2 separate regions of the Homo sapiens genome follow, and region 1 is linked to region 2. Evidence: fine-mapped expression QTL. A gene starts in region 2. The other region holds a variant in brackets. All regions are shown on one strand. Distances are from middle to middle.

The links. PIP is the estimated chance that this variant, and not a neighbour inherited with it, causes the effect.
Region 1: its variant is fine-mapped to the expression of LINC01963 in whole blood (TOPMed, PIP above 0.99).

Annotation. Positions count from the first base shown.
Region 1 is chr2:216,173,627-216,181,626 of GRCh38, reverse strand. All of the region lies in intron 16 of XRCC5 (X-ray repair cross complementing 5), which reads right to left. It also overlaps the pseudogene LOC100421349. Among named protein-coding and RNA genes, the nearest start is that of LINC01963, 39 kb to the left of the region's middle. The variant C/T (reference allele first, on the strand shown) is at 4,552.
Region 2 is chr2:216,212,055-216,220,587 of GRCh38, reverse strand. LINC01963 (long intergenic non-protein coding RNA 1963) reads right to left here and starts at 3,699. Exons shown (of 1, transcript NR_037701.1): 1 at 396-3,699.

The sequences.
Region 1 (8,000 bases), 39 kb after region 2:
GCATTGGGATCCAAAGATATACCGGTTCTCAAATCACAAGCATCTCTTTAGAGTAGGATTTGGGGGTAAAGATAAGAATGGCCATTTTTTTAAAAGAGTTAATCAGCTTTAGAAAGCCGATGCTGCAAGGGCATTAGCAGGAACATGGTTTGAATACAAGGTTCACAGAGGGAATCTGTATAAGAATGGGTCGGGAGTGGCAGAATGGGACCAGATTGTGGCAAGCCTTGAATGGGGGACTGAATGGGAGTAATTAATAAGGGCTGACCCAGAATAAAATCTGTGCTATAAGAACTTAAATCTGTACAAACATATGGGCAGGAATGAAGGAGAACTTTGAAGGTTATTAATGAAGGATGCTGGAACTGTCCAATGATAAAATAATGAAAGCCTGAATTCGGATAGTGATAAGATGGAAAGGAAAAGACAGACCTGAGAAGTAAATTAGAAGATGATTAGAAAGCAGAAGAGAAATGGATACAAAGTTGTCAGAAATGCCAATGAAGAAACTCAAGGCCGGGCGCAGTGGTTCGTGCCTGTATTCCCAGCACTTTGGGAGGCCGAGGCGGGTGGATGATCTGAGGTCGGGAGTTCGAGACCAGCCTGACCAATACAGAGAAACCCCGTCTCTACTAAAAATACAAAATTAGCTGGGTGTGGTGGTGCATGCCTGTAATCCCAGCTACTCAGGAAGGCTGAGACAGGAGAATTGTTTGAACCTGGGAAGTAGAGGTTGCAGTGAGCCGAGATCGCGCCATTGCACTCCAGCCCGGGCAACGACAGCGAAACTCCATCTCGGAAAAAAAAAAAAAAAGATACTCAAGGGGCAAAACAACAGTTAACAACACTGCTTATTTCTGGAGAAAGTCCCATTAATAACATCAGGACACGCCATCACTTAGGTGGTTGCCTTCCTTAGAATGCCCTTCTTTGGGCCCTCTCCTATCCACCTTTACCATAATGGACCAGGTTATGCCAACCTCCTCCAGGAATTCTTTTTAAGACAGAGTCTTGCTCTGTTGCCCAGGCTGGAGTGCACTGGCATGATCACAGCTCACTGCAACCTCCCGCCTCCCAGGTTCAAGCAATTCTTGTGCCTCAGCCTCCTGAGTAGCTGGGACTACAGGCCCAAGCCATCATGCACGACTGATTTTTGTATTTTTAGTAGAGATGGGGTTTTGCCATGTTGGCTAGGCTGGTCTTGAATTCCTGGCTTCAAGTGATCCACCCGCCTTGGCCTCCCAAAGTGCTGGGATTACAGGCGTGAACCACTGTACCCGGCCCCTCCACGAATTATTCTTCAAAGTAGTCACCTACCTGCATCTGCACCCATATAGTCTGCCTTCCATCCTATTGCCTTTGCTGAACTGTCTGTGTGTTATCTAAGTTACCCCTTCCACCTGTGCCCTAGATCCCATGCCTCTCCGTTACTCAAGGATCTCTTCCAGTCTCATGTCTTAAAGTCTCTATGGCTCCTTCTCCACGATTTATACATACAACTCAGACCTTTTTCCTGAAGTCCAGACCTGCATGACCATCTTCTCCTTCTCAGCAAATGGCAATTCGTCCAGTTGCTCAGACTAAAAATCTTGGGAGTTATTTTTAAACTTTTTCTCTCTCACACACTCTACATTCAAATGATCAGCAAAACTTGACAATTCTACTTTCAAAACAGATCAAAAATCGGACCTCTTCTTACTACCTCCGGTCACGTGGATTAACGCCGAAGCCTTCTAACTCATCTGCCTACCTCAACCTTGCCCTTTTCCTCAACATGGTATGAAATATAAAACCAGATCATTCGCTACTTCAAACTCTTCAATGGTTTCACATTTCACTCAGAGAAAAGCAAAAGGTCTAGGAGGCCTTATGTGATATGTACCCCAGCCAGCTCTCTGACTTCTCAGCTCCTACTTTCTTTGCTCCAGTCACACGGACCTCCCTGATGCTTCTAGCCAAGCATAGTCATCTTGAGCTTCTCAAGAACATGCTGCTCCCTCTGTCTGCAAAGCTCTCCTCCCAGATATCCACTAGGTTCTCTCTCTCACTATCCTCAATTCTCAGTTCAACAGTGAGGACTTCCCTGATCCTCTACATAAAATTATAAGCCCATCTCAACCCAGCATTCCCTATCCCACTATCCTGCTTTAACTTTTCTCTATAGTGCTGTCATGGGCTGAATAGTATCCCCACCCCGCCCCCACATTCCTGTCCTTACCAAAACCTCACAACGTGACCTTACTTGGAAAGAGAGTCCTTGCAGATGTGTGATCAAATTAAGATGAGGTCACTAGGAAAGGCCCTAATCCAATAGGACTGACATCCTTATAAGAAGAGGCAAACTTGGATACAGACATACAAGAACTCCCCTGTTAAGAGAGAAGGAGAGATTACAGTAATGGATCTATAAGTCAAGGGATGCAAGAATTGCCAGCTGTCACCAAAGGCTACAAGAGAGCATTGAACAGATTCTCCCCCATACCTCTCAGAAGGAAGCAGTCCTGTGATTTTGGACTTTAGTCTCCAGAACTGCAAGGATAAACTTCCACTGCTTTAAGGCACTCAGTTTGTGGAACTCCATTACTGCAGCACTAGGACACTAACACAAATGCTTATCACCATTTGACATATATTTTCTTATTTGTTTACTGTCTGTATCTTGGTATGACTGGCACACAGTAGGCATTCAACAAATAATTGTTGAATGGATGAATAAATGGTGTAGGCCTCACTGGTTTATTCCTCTAAAAGCCTAAGGAATGAACATGTCTTTTTGTTGTTCGTTCAGTTTAAACCCATAAGCTGTGTATTTAGCACTGGCTGCCACTTAGGGGAGTAGACAGTCTAGAACTCTCTTTTATCCCCTCCCTCCCTTAATTTTACAGAGATGGAAATGGTTACAATAAAGCTCTATTGAAGGGGGAAATGCAGAAAGAATAACATGCTATATAAGATATATATGCAGATGTACAGGGATGAGATATCACATCCAACATTGTCATGATTATATGCATGAAGACATCTTGACGTTTTATTATTGCTTACTAAGTATGCCTCATCTCATCTTGGTGTACACCTTTTTCTTTTCTTTGATCAAGCTGCTTGATGCCACTGGGAATGGAGGGTTCTCCCAAAATGTACTGTCTCTGACTATATCCCCAATTTATTATACCCTAAAACAATTAACCATCTTGATCACAATACAGGGCATCAGTAGGGATGAACAGGGTTATTCCTATGAAGACACAGAATGTGGGTATGGGCAGAGTTTCAAAGGGAGGGAGACAATAAAGAAGGAGATGTCCACTTTTTAACTTTATATGCTATTATATTACTATTTGCATTTTCCCCCATATAAGCATGTGCTTATTTTTAATGGAAGCCTAAGAAGCAAGTAAATCATCTCGAAACAGTTAAGAGATTGTCATACAAGGAGATAAAAAACAATTGTTTCTATTTCTAGTGAGCTCTCAACAGGAAGACAATTTTCATGGGGTGACACAATACTTCTATTTCATTGATCCTTTTCTTTCTTTTTTGTTTTATTCCTTCTGAACCACATACTTTGTTCTTTTTGTTTATTACTCATATACTTAAAGAGCAGTGGTGAAAAAGGCCCTTAGAAATAATTTCATCTACTGCCCTCAGGAAATCTGAAGCAGATCTGCAGGCATATCTTATCTTTGGTTTGTAGCTTCTACCCTCCTTACAATCCCATACATTTAAAATTCCAATGTATAAGTCTTGCTGGCTTCATTACAATCCACCTCAGAATAATTAGACACAGAGCAAATTGTGGGATAATCCAACCTTAGTTATATTTTCTTCTCAGTCCATGAGACAAAAAAGGATTCAAACAAAATAAATACATGCTTGACAAAAATGGGACAAAAGAAGAAACAAATGAAAGGAATAATGAACCTATAAATTTTCAAAATCTATAAACATTGAACTAAGACTTGATGTACTTGATATACCTGCTGCCACTAAAATTGACTTTCATTTCTCACAATTAATCGCCTTTCTGCTCCAACAAGTTCCTAAAATCTACACAATTTTTCCAGTACTGAGTAAACTTATCCTCTACTAATATGATTTTTCCCTCGAAGCAGAGGATTCAGAAACACATACAGTCTTGCAGCACACATAGCTAAGTTTATTTTTCCTAAAATGCCAATACCTGAAGACTTTTATTTAACATATACTCTATTACCTGAATTGACAGTGTTTTCTTTAGTGTCACCCTGTAAAAATTCACTAGGATCTCATGACCCAAGCTGGTTTAGCTAGGTGAGACCAAAATCATAAAGGTCTCACTAGCACACAAGGTCTCAAGGTGAATAACTTTCAATACTCAAAACGTCACGGAAAACAACTAGATAGAAAGTCAAAAGACAGATTTGAACAAACTATCAACCAAATTGCCCTGACATTTCCAGCACACTTGTCCTAGTAACAGGTGAATACATGTACTTTTTAAGGCCATAGAGAACAACTGGCAGAACAGACTATATGTGAGACCACATAAGAACAAGTCTGAATAAATTCAGA[C/T]GGACTGAAGCCACTCAAAGTATGATCTCCAATCATAACAGAATTAAAAATCAACAACAGGAAGAAATTGGGAAATCTTCAATATTTGGAATTTAAGAACACATTTAAATAACCCAAGAGTCAAAGAAACAATCATGAAAGACATTAGAATATATTTAAACTAAATGAAAACAAAATCATAACACATCGCAATTTATGGTGTGAAGCTAAAAAACTGCTTAGCAGGAAATGTATAGCTTTAAATGCCTATATTAGAAAAGAGGTTTCAAATCAATCATCTAAGCTTCCACCTTAAGAAACAAGAAAATGAAAAGTGAATTACAGCCAAAGTAAGAAGAAGGAATGGAATAATAAAGATCAGAGCAGAAATTAATTAAATGAGAATAATGGAGAAAATCAATAAAACTAACTAAAAGCTGGGATCTTAAAAAGATAAAATCCATAAGCCTTTACCTAGACTGACCAAGAAAAAGGGAAGATACAAAATCCCCAAATCAGAAATAAAGAACAGATCTCAAAAATATTATTATAAGGGAATAATAATCAATGTTATACTAAAAAATTAGACAAAAGGAACAAATTCTTATAAAGACATATTACTAAAACTGATTCAATAAGAAATTTTAAAACTGACCAGATTTATTAGCTTAAAAATTGGGCCCGGTGCAGTGGCTCACGCCTGTAATCCCAGCACTTTGGGAGGCCAAGGTGGGTGGATCACTTGAGGTCAGGAGTTCGAGACCAACCTAGCCAATATGGTGAAATCCCGTCTCCACTAAAAATACAAAAGTTTGCCGGGTGTGGTGGCGGGCGCCTGTCATCCCAGCTGCTTGGGAGGCTGAGGCAGGAGAATGGCTTGAACCCGGGAGACAGAGGTTGCAGTGAGTCAAGATCACACCACTACACTCCAGCCTGGGCAACAGAGTGAGACCCCGTATCCAAAAAAAAGAAAAAAATTGAATTAGTATTAAAAAGCTTCCCACAGCCTCTTCCTCACAGTTCCATGTTGAACTTGAGTTGGAGGAGGCAAGTCTAGTCTTAAAATGGAGGTAAAACCACTACCCGGTTGCCCCTAGGCTGACTCTGGCCGTTGTCATTGCCACTGCCGCCAAGAGGAGGAAGGCCATGATCCAAAGGAATCCAGCGCGGCTGAGAAAATTGTTTATTGGTGGTCTGAGCTTTAAAACTACAGATGATGGGTTAAGAGAACATTTTGAGAAAGGGGGCACACTCACAGATTGTGTGGTAATGACAGAACCCCAAGCAAACATTCCAGGGGCTTTGGTTTTATGGCTTTCTCTTGTGTTGAAGAGGTGGACACAGCAATGTGTGCTTGACCACACAAGGTTGATGGGTGTGGAGTGGAACCAAAGACAGTTGTTTCTAGAGAGGATTCTGTAAAGCCTGGTGCCCACCTAACAGTGAAGAACATTTTTGCTGGTGGTATTAAAGTAGATACAGTTTCAGAAATTACTCTGAAAACTATAGCAAGACTGAAACCATACAAGTTATGGATGACAGAGTGGAAAAAGAGAGAATGTGCACTTTTAACTTTTGATGATCATGATACAATTGATAAAACTGTTGTTTAGAAACACCACACTATTAACAAGCACAACTGTAAAGTGAAAAAGGCCCTTTCTAAACAAGAGATGCAGTCTGCAGGATCACAGAGGTGATGGAGGTGGATCTGACAACTTTATGGGTTGTGGAGGAAACTCTGGAAGTGGTGCAAGTAATTTTGGCTGTGGTGGAAACTTTGGTGGAAGAGGAGGCTCTGGTGGTAGAAGTAGAGGTGGTGGCAGCAGAGGTGGTTATGGAGGGTGTAATGGTGGATATAATGGATGTGGAGGTGACGGTGGGCAACAATGGTGGTGGGCCTGCCTACAGCAGTAGTGGGGGCTATGGAGATGGTGAACCAGGATATGAAAACCACAATGGCGGGTATGGGGATAGTGGTGAAGGATATGATGGTTACAATGAAGGAGGAAATTTTGGCAGTGGTAACTATGGTGGTGGTGGGAACTATAATGATTCTGGAAATTTTAGCAGACAAAAACAATCAAATTATGAACCCATTAAAGGGTGCAGTTTTGGTGGAAGAAGCTCGGGGAGTTCCTGTGGTGGTGGTGGTTACGGATCTGGCGGTAGACGTGACGGATATGGTAGCAGAAGGTTCTAAAAACAGCAGAGAGGGGCTACAATTCTTAGCAGGAGAAAGAACAAGGAGTTGTCACAAAAGTTGCAGGTTATTTGAGATAGTCATCCCAAATGCATTAGAGGAACTGTAAAAATCTGCCACAGAAGGAATGGTGATCCATGGTCAGAAAAGTTATTGCAGCTTAAACAGAAAACCCTTCTTGTGCAGGACTATCATAGCCACAGTTTGCAAAAGTGCAGCTATTAATGAATGCAATATAGTGTCGATTAGACGTACATTCCTGAGCTCTTTTATCTGTTGTAGCTTTGTCTGTTTCTTTTTCATTACATCAAGTATATTGCCCTGTAAATTGTGGTAGTGATAACAGGAATAAAAAAATTAAAGAACTTTCAACTTTTCAATATTTGTGTAGTTTTTCTGTATTTTAGTACAGAAACTTAAAATGCAGTTTTGAAGGTATTTTCTTTTGAGTTAACAAATAAAGAAGATTATTGTTAATTACTATTTTGTATAAATTTTGCTAAAGTTAACTATAAAGAAACATATGCTGACTTGCAGCTCAAGGGGAATCTACTGTCCCCATTTCCAAACCATGACATGAATGGGCACTGACATGTGAAGAGAAGAGATATTTGTATGTTTGCAATGTGTGTTTTAGATTAATAGGATTTGGTATTTAAATTAGCATATTTTTGAATTTAAGAGCATTAAGGTGACCTTCAAATGAAACAATCTCAAAATTCAAAAAACAAAACAAAACAAAAGCTCCCCACAAAGAACTCAGATGGCTTCACTGGTAAATTATATGAAATATGTAAAGAATAAATAATAGAAATCTTGAAGAGAAGGAAACTTCCTAACTCATTCTATGAGTCCAGTATTTTCCTGTTACCAAAACCAAAGACATCACACAAAACAAGAAAACTACAAACAATTTCCCAACAAAATATTAGCTGTCTTAGTGTATTTTGTGCTGCTATAACAGAATACCCAAGACTGGGTAATTTATAAAGAACAGATATTTATTTAGCTCACAGTTCTGGAGGCTGGGAAGTCTAAGAGCATGACACCGGCAGCTGGAGGAGACCACCCCACATCAGAAGGCAGAAGCAAGCCAGAGACAGAGAAGAAATCAGGCCGAACTCATCCTTTTTATAACTAACCCACTCAAGTGATAATGGCCTGAATCCTTTCATGAGAATGATGCCTCCATGACCTAATTACTTCTTAAAGGTCCCACCTCTCAACACCGTTAGAATGGGGATTAAGTTTCCAACACATAAACTTT
Region 2 (8,533 bases):
GTTTGTGACCTTCTCTCCCTACTGGACCATGAACTTCTGGAGGACAACGAATGTGTGTTCTTCAAACTCTAATCTTCCAGAGTGCCCAGCAGAGCTCTGGATATAGCAGGTGCTCAATACATTATTTATTAAGCGGAATTTTACAGTCAAGAAACCTAGGACACATGTCAGAGAATGAGTAGGCACATACCTGCTTGTGGGGCAGCTGGAATATCAATAGAGAGGCATCTCTTCCTGCTAGGCATGATTTTGGGTAAGATCCCTGTGGCCCACATGATGCCCATGAGGACAAACATAAAAAGACAAGGCTGCATGCCTGGGACCCAGTGTTGTGCTGAACCCCTATTAACTTCAATAGGGAAGGCATAAGGTTCAAGACGCCAAAGAGACCCAGAGCCAGCAAAAGAGACGTGGGGTTTTATTGAGGGCTTACATACAGGGGAGGGAGTCCAGAGGTGGCGGGCTGGATAGAATTGTCTTACATACAGAAATGGTCCTGTGGTGTTGGGCTGGACAACATATCCGCATGGCCCGGTGGTGGCAGGCTGGGCAGGAAAACCACAACTGCCTGCAAACATCATGCAGTTTATACAGCATTTTCACTTAACCCCTTTCCCTAATGAGCGACACCTGGCAACTGTCATTTAACCCAAAACTTAAGGCCTCAATCCTCTCTACAGCCTGGGTTTCATGGGATGGGCCAGGGGCTCAGATGTCTATTATAGATAAGAAACGAATCTCCGATTGGCCACTCCCGGATTTTCTAGCTCGAAACACACATTCAGGAGCATCTGCCATATAGGGTCATTATAAAGGTGTGCTTAAGTTATTGCTATCAGGTGCATTTACCCTACACCGGGTAAGACACTGACCACATGGACTCTTTCTTCATAATGTGCAAGAATTCATGAATAAAAGGACACAAAGACATACAATATCTAATAACAGTGAACATTTATAGAATACTTGCAGCTTGTTTCATATTCACATTCTCAATAAATGCAGACAGATGATGTCTTCACAATTTAGTAGTCTGACCCTTTCCACCTATATAACATGGACAAATGTTTATCACCTCCTAACACAGCAAGAACATCTAGCACACATATCCGCACACACACACTTATAGAAAGAAGGGGACTAAAATGATTGAGTCCCATATTTCAGGTGCTGTTCTAGGCATCTGACAGATATAAAACACACTCCCCAAAGTCCTGCTCATGTGTCTGTGTCTAGTTCAATCCCCTCCCTCCCCTTTTACCCTTGCCTTACCACCCCTTGTACCACATGTATCTTCCTTTTAACTCCACACATTTATTCTCTGGAGATATAATAATCTCAGTGGCTGTCATGGGTTGAATTATGATCCCCCAAAAAGCTGTGTTGAAGTCCCAACCCTCAGTACTACTGAATGTGACCTTACTAGGAAATACAGTCTTTCCTAATGTAATTGGTTGATAAGCTCAGATGAGTGGGGTGGGCTCCTTATACGACTGGTGTCTTATAAGAAGATGCCCTAGGAAAGCAATACAGTGGCCTAGGAAGGGAATGTGTGCGTGTATGCATGTGCACTGGACACTGGGATTATGCCTTGTGTGTGGAATAACAATGTATATGTGTATGTGTGTGAGAGAGGGTTTGAGTCTGTGTGCCCATGCATTATGCATGAGAAGCCAAGGGATGATTTTTGCCCATTTACCATCACACACATGTATACTCTTCAGTCCTGAAATTCTGAGTGTCCTCTCTGCCTGGACCATTAATTAGAATCATGTATTTCCCCTGCCTCCCTTTGCCAGTGGGCAGAAGGCAGTTTCTGAGCAGTGATTAAGCCTCTATCAGGACACTAATGCAAGTGGCCCATAAAAGGCATCTAACCCTGACACTGTTGGAGGATCCAGGACCCAGGGAGTTGGAAAGAGGGAAGGAAAATCTTTAAAAGAGGGAGCCAGGTGAAGCGACACACTGCAATGTGACTGACCTGCTGAGATTCCAAGACCTGAAACACAAACATACATGTGCACGCACACCTCCTCCCATCTAGAACCCAACTGTTTTTGACTTCTGTTCTCTTAGCGGGCTTCCCATTCCTCCTATGCCCCCAACATTATCTGAGAGGCAGCTGTCTGTTTTGTAGGAGAAAAGAGATAGTCTGTTTGAGTGATGCACACTGGATCACAGAGCAAGTTATGGACAAAGATGGAACTGTCTCTGAGTGTCATTACTTAACTTGCTAATCCACATAGGGCTGGGGGTATCCACTCATAAAAAGCAGGGCAGGACATTTTAAAGCCAGACAGGGGCTGTGTAGAGAAGGAAGAAAAATAGAATTGCAGGGACTGATAATGGAAGTATTTACTGTACACTTACTATACACCAAACATTTTATGTGGTTCATGCTCATTTAATCCTGACAGCCCTGAAAGTTAGGTTAACATAAACCCTATTTGACAGGTGCAGAAACTGAGACTGAGAATAGTCAAGCAACTTGGCTGAGGTCACAAAGCCAGGATATAGTGGCAGGTTTTGAAAGAGGCAGTTTGATTCCAGGCTCGGCTCTGATAATATTAAGCGGGCATTAAAAAGCAGGCTTCTGGGAGATGGAAAAGGAGTGGTGGAATCATCAAATGGCATGGATGTTGTACATAACTGAAGCCCTGGATTACAGAATTAAAATTCCATGTCTGTACTCCTCCCTCCCGCTCCAGCTCCACAGTTGGCGTGGGCCAGCCCAAGGCTACTGGTGGTGGGAGGAATAGCTTCATGTCCTCAAAGCACTCACCTAAATTCTGGTGTAGGGAGAGCTTAAAGTCTGTGGAAGAGACCCAGCATGCCTTTCCAAGTAGGTCCTGGGTTAGAAAGATCTGGGAGGCCTGTGTGTTAAAAGAGATGGCAGGAAATGATTCAGCTCTATATCTGTAAAATCTCTGACAATGACAGGATGTGAGGAATGACAGGAGGATCAGGAGGGCTGGGCGGGGGTGACTGAAATGTACTGACCCTGGCTGCAAACTAAAAATAAAATCCTAAGTCCCCTCCACCAACTGAATAGAAACGCTCTTGGCAAAGAGGACCCCAGAAAAACCTTAGAAACTGAGTTCCCAGCCATGACAGGACAAGAGGTCAGACACACCTCATTATACTCCCCTCCCTTTTATGGTTTAGACACAACCAACCAGCATTAATGTCAAAATAGAGGTCATAAGACTGACCAAACACACTCTTTGTGGCAACAAGATACCAAATTACAAACAGGACCTAAGGCCATGCCAAACAAGGGTTAAGTCATGCAGCCCTACACTTAAAAGAATAAACTATGTTCTAACTGCCACAAGTTTTCCTTTTCTCTAGCAGCTAAATAAGCACTGGCCTCTAAATAAACAATACTAAAACACTTGCAGCTCCACCAGATGCTGACTAACTGAACTCCACCAGCCATAACTACAGCTTTGATTGGACAAGAGTGATTTCGGTAATTTTCTCCTGGTAAGGAGCCCACCGACCATGACTGGTTCTAGCGGGTTTACAGAGATTGCATACTTGAGTGCCTTCATGTCCTGAATAGACCTTTTGATGTATAGGGCCTGATTGCAATATTTAAATATTAAGTCTCCACCCCAAGGTGAACATGTGTCATATGTAAGATGCATGTTTAATATGCATGCATCAGGACCACTTTCATTAATATTCATAGCTCCTCCTGTAACCTGTTGAATATGTGTTAAGCCAACCCATTCAGCATAAAAGCATAAAACTCCTACCCCAACCCCTCCTCCTTGGAGGTGCCTGTCTCTGGGCTTCTGCTGGAGGAGGCTGTGCTTCCTGGCCTGCAGGATGGCCACCTGGCAGGCTGTCACCCTTAAGAAATAGTGTCTCCATTTTTCTAAATTTGTATCTTATGATTTTTTTTTTAAAGTTAACGTATCTGGCAAAGATGGGATTCTGAAGCAGCCCCTGAATTCCTTTTCCTGTGTCACCCAGGACACCAGGTACAGCCAAGGTCCCTTTGAAAAAGTCCAGTTGTTCCTGACTATGCTGGGAAAGGATCTGGGTAAGTGCTATCAAAATCCAAGATCTCCCACTTTTAGGTTGCAGACTTGATTTCTTCTTTTAGGCCTCCTCCATCTGTGGAACTCCGGAGGAGACCCTCCTGCTGGCCTTGGGTTTGGGAGGGCATTCCTAGTTCTTCTCAGTCCTTTCTGTTCTCCTCCCTGGACCCCGGAGGGAACATCTCTCCTAGCCTTGGGTTTGGAGGAGGCCTTCCTGATTCCCTCCATCCAAGGGCCCTGGAGAAAATGCATTTGTGGGCTCCGGGCTTATGGAGAGGCATTCAGGTTGGATTCAACTGGTTCATAAGGTTTGTGGGGATGCTCACACTAAGGGCACTGGAAGAGATATCTTCATAAAGTCAGTGCAATAGGTAACTTACCCACTAGGGGCAGGAACTCCTGTAGAAGTTCAAAGGCATGCCAGGTTTTCCAGCACTTCAGCTAGCTGCATATTGTGGCCTGTTCTTGTGCACATTTTAAAACTGAACGGGCAAATTACAGCAAGGAAAATTCAGAGCTCAAATGCCCAACCTGCAACTATACAATTAAAATGTAGAGTTTTCTAAAGCTATCTCTTTTTTGTTTTCGGCCTGCTTTGAATTTGCTGTTATTAAGCTACTGCTGTTAAGATAAAACTCATTGTTTATGATACTACTAATTCAAGGCTACTTGGAGCTTTCTTTACAGTTCAGCCAATTGTAGCTAAAATGTAAACACTGAAAACTCATTTGAAACTTCAGGAAAAAAAAAAGGGGTAAAAGGTTTTTAAAAATAAAACTGCCATGAAAACTACTTTTCCCAAGACTTTGGTCCATAGCCTTCATTGGATTACCTACTGGGACAAATAAAGTTTAGCCATGTGAACAGGTCCCAATTTTGTCAGAAATAATTTGGATCCAGCTGTCTTTTGTTAAGTGGTGAGTCTGTATTACCATCTCATGGCTAAGGTTCCAGAGTAAAAGCTGTAAGATCTTTGTGTGTATGTGTTTAAATGTTTGTATATGAACATGTATTATGTTGTGTTGTATCTAGCATGGTACCAAACTGGTTTATAAGTAAATTATACTCATAAATTAAGTAAGTCCAAATACTTTTCAGATTCATGTGAACTTAGTAATCTGGTAAATAAAATGGTTTTAAAATTATTGGTAAAATAAAACTAGAAATGTCTTCAGAATTGTCAGCATACATTTTTTTTTTAGTCTGGGTTTACTGATTATTTTATATTTGCCTCCGCTAGGTGTTTTAAGGTATCAGGATTTGGCACAAAAGATTATAAGACTATAAACCCAGTCAAAAAGAGAATGATCTTTGTGTGAATTTTTTGACAAATAAGACTAATTTAATATTGTTGGTTCAATGAAAACAGCTAAGTTGTTAGCTGTTTTGTTAGCTTCTGAGTTGTTGGCAAAAATATCCACATGTTTAAGGTTCTGACTTAAATGAACATCTGATATTCACAGGCTACAAAAATGGTTAACAGGTCATACAGGTTACTAAACAGCTGATGACTCGTCACATAGAACTTACAGGTAAGTCACTGTTGTAACCTTGCTTTTTGGCTCTTCTGTTGCTCAAAAGGTTTTTAAGGGTTAATGAGTGCCTGTTCACCTCCATCCTCATCTGGCCTAGAATGTTTAATTGGCTCCAAGTCCCTTGGCCATAAGGATCCCACCAAAGAACAGAATGAACCTGCAGCAGGTAGCCACACCACCCCGGCAAAGATATGGGAAAAAATAAATGTTTGGTCACCAATGTCATCTCTGGCACATCTTGGCTAAAAGGGGAGAATGTAAACTCAGCCTCCCAAAGTGCTGGGATTACAGACATGAGCTACCATGCTTGGCCAGAAACACGTTTCTAAAAATTGTGACGTGATTCTCATCTTTAAAGTGCTGATAGAGAACAGACAATTCAATATTTCTTGCCTCCTAGGTTTTCACTAAAATTTAAGGTTACTAAGAGTAAGAATTTTAGTTAATATAGAATTCTATATATAAAATGTGCCAAATAAATGTGTTCTTATGGAGAAAAAGAATAATTTTATTTAATTTGGATGTTATTTAAAGGTTAGTTATGAAAGAAGGTAGAAAACCAGTAAGTAGGAGAGATGTGAAAAAAGTTAGCTATGAAGATGTATTTTTGGTAAGGAAGGTTCAAAAGAGAATAATTTCATATATGAAAGTATCTTGCAGGGTAAATTTCTGTCCTAAAGTAAAATGACTGGTTATTAAGGAAAGGGGAAATTTAGTACAAATCAGAAAGTACAAGCATGTTATAGATGGTCTAAGTTGTGATAAGGTTTGTGAGAGAATACTTATGAAAAGCATTTTGTGTGGGATTAAGTTGGCTATAATTAAAATTATTTATAAAAGTCTTTCTAAATTTTGGTCCCTTGTTTTAAAAGAAAGTTGTCTTAAAATATGATTTACTCTTAATACAATTAAAAGAGGTTTTGATTTTTAATTCTAAACCTGTTTCTTGTTGAAAACTTCTCAGATTAGTATCTTGGAAGTTCCACTTTTGCTGCGTCTTGCTACTTTGTTTTTCTCCCCCTTTGAGAAGGCCTGAGATGATAACTTTTCCCTTCAACTGTTTTGCCAGCTCCTGTAACTTTTTCCCTCTGGTTCTAACTGCCACTGTGGCCTGATGCTAAAATGTTTTATCTTGAAGGTCTCGAAGAGCAATGTTTTCCTACAGTATACCTTGATTCTGTACTCTTGGCTTTTCCTGATATCCGAATTGTTCCATATAACCAGAAAACTTCCCATGCTGTTATTAAGAGTCATGTATTCCCCGGCTCAAGGTACAGTTTTCTAGTTTCCTGTTTCCTCCATAACATAAAGTTCATTCATGACCCCAGACACACTCTTCTTGTGTCTGATTAATTCAAGTAAACTTTTTACAGTTTGATTTCCAAGTTATCTAAATGGGCTTCTCATAGGAGAAGCAACCACACTGTAGGTTTTTCTTTGCCTTTTTGGTAACTGGCCTAAGAACCAAAGATTTTACATTTTATCAAGATAATTCCCATGTTTTCTTTATTAGATTTTTTATTACTTAGGAAAACTAAGCTTTAAAAGGGTTAAGGTTTTTACATCCATGTGACTTTCCATATTGCATTTAAAGTCTTTTGATTATTACTCTTGGTTTAATGAATAACTATTACAATGACCTGTAATTCCATTTTGATTAAAAGCTTTGAGCCTTTGAACATCTTTGACAAATGTCCTCAAAATCAAATAAACATTGCTAATTCTTCATGTTTTGCTTTTCAGAGTCAATAAAACCTTTTTTCTTTTAAACTATTTACAGCTTACAGAAATTGGGTAAAACATTGAAGATTACCTTTCTCTCTACCTAGTATCTCTAGAATTTGAAAACTATTCAATCCCCCTAGGCCAATCTGCTTTCCATTGCCAAGGCACTACTGCTAAAGCAATACAGTATCAAGCACCCTCCCAGTAGGCCCATGGACTATCACAGAAGGGGTGGGCACATGAGATTGTAAGGGCCAGTTTCAACAGATAAAATTAGTTCAGACCCTCCAAATTAAAGATGGGCATACAGATTACCAAACAGCTCATGGCTCAACACACAGAACTCATAGACAAGTCACTTTTGTAACACTGCTTTTTGGTTATGTTGCTCAAAAGGTTTTTAAGGGTTAATGCGTGCCTGTGAACCTCCATCTTCATCTGGCCTCCAATGTTTAATTAGTTTTAAGTCTTTTGGTTCCAAGTCCCTTGGCCACAGGGATCCCACCAAAGAACAAAATGAGCCTGGGGCAGGTAACGACACCACCCTGGCAGTGACATGAGACAAAATAAATGTTTGGTCATCAGTGTTGCCTCTGGCACATCTTGGCTAAAAGGGGAGAATGTAAACTAAAAATAAAATCCTAAGACTCCTCCCCTACAGATTGAATGGACCCCCTCTTGGCCAAGGGGACCCCAGAAAATTCTTAAAAACGGAGTTCCCAGCCATGACAGGACAGCAGGTTAGACACGACTTGTTATACTCCCCTCCCTTTTCTGGTTTACAGACAATTGACCCGCATTAAAGTTAAAATAGAGATCCTAAGATTGACAGAACAGATTCTTTGTGGCAGCAACATAACAAATTACCATGCCAGGCAAGGGTTAAGTTATGCACCCCTACGCTTAAAGAATAAACTAGGTTCTAACTGCAACAAGGATTCTCTTTCTCTCTAGCAGCTAAACAAGCAGTGGCCTCACCATAAACACTAATAAAACACTTGCAGCCCTACCAGATGCTGACTAACTGAACTCTACCAGCCATAACTATAGCTTTGACTGGACAAGAGAGTGATTTCAGTAACTTTCTCCTGTTAAGAAGCCCACCGACCATGGACTGGTTCTAGTGGGTTTACAGAGATTGCGTACTTGAGTGCCTTCCTGTCCTGAAAAACCTTTTGATGTACTGGGCCTGATTGTAATATTTAAATGTCGAGTCTTCTCTGT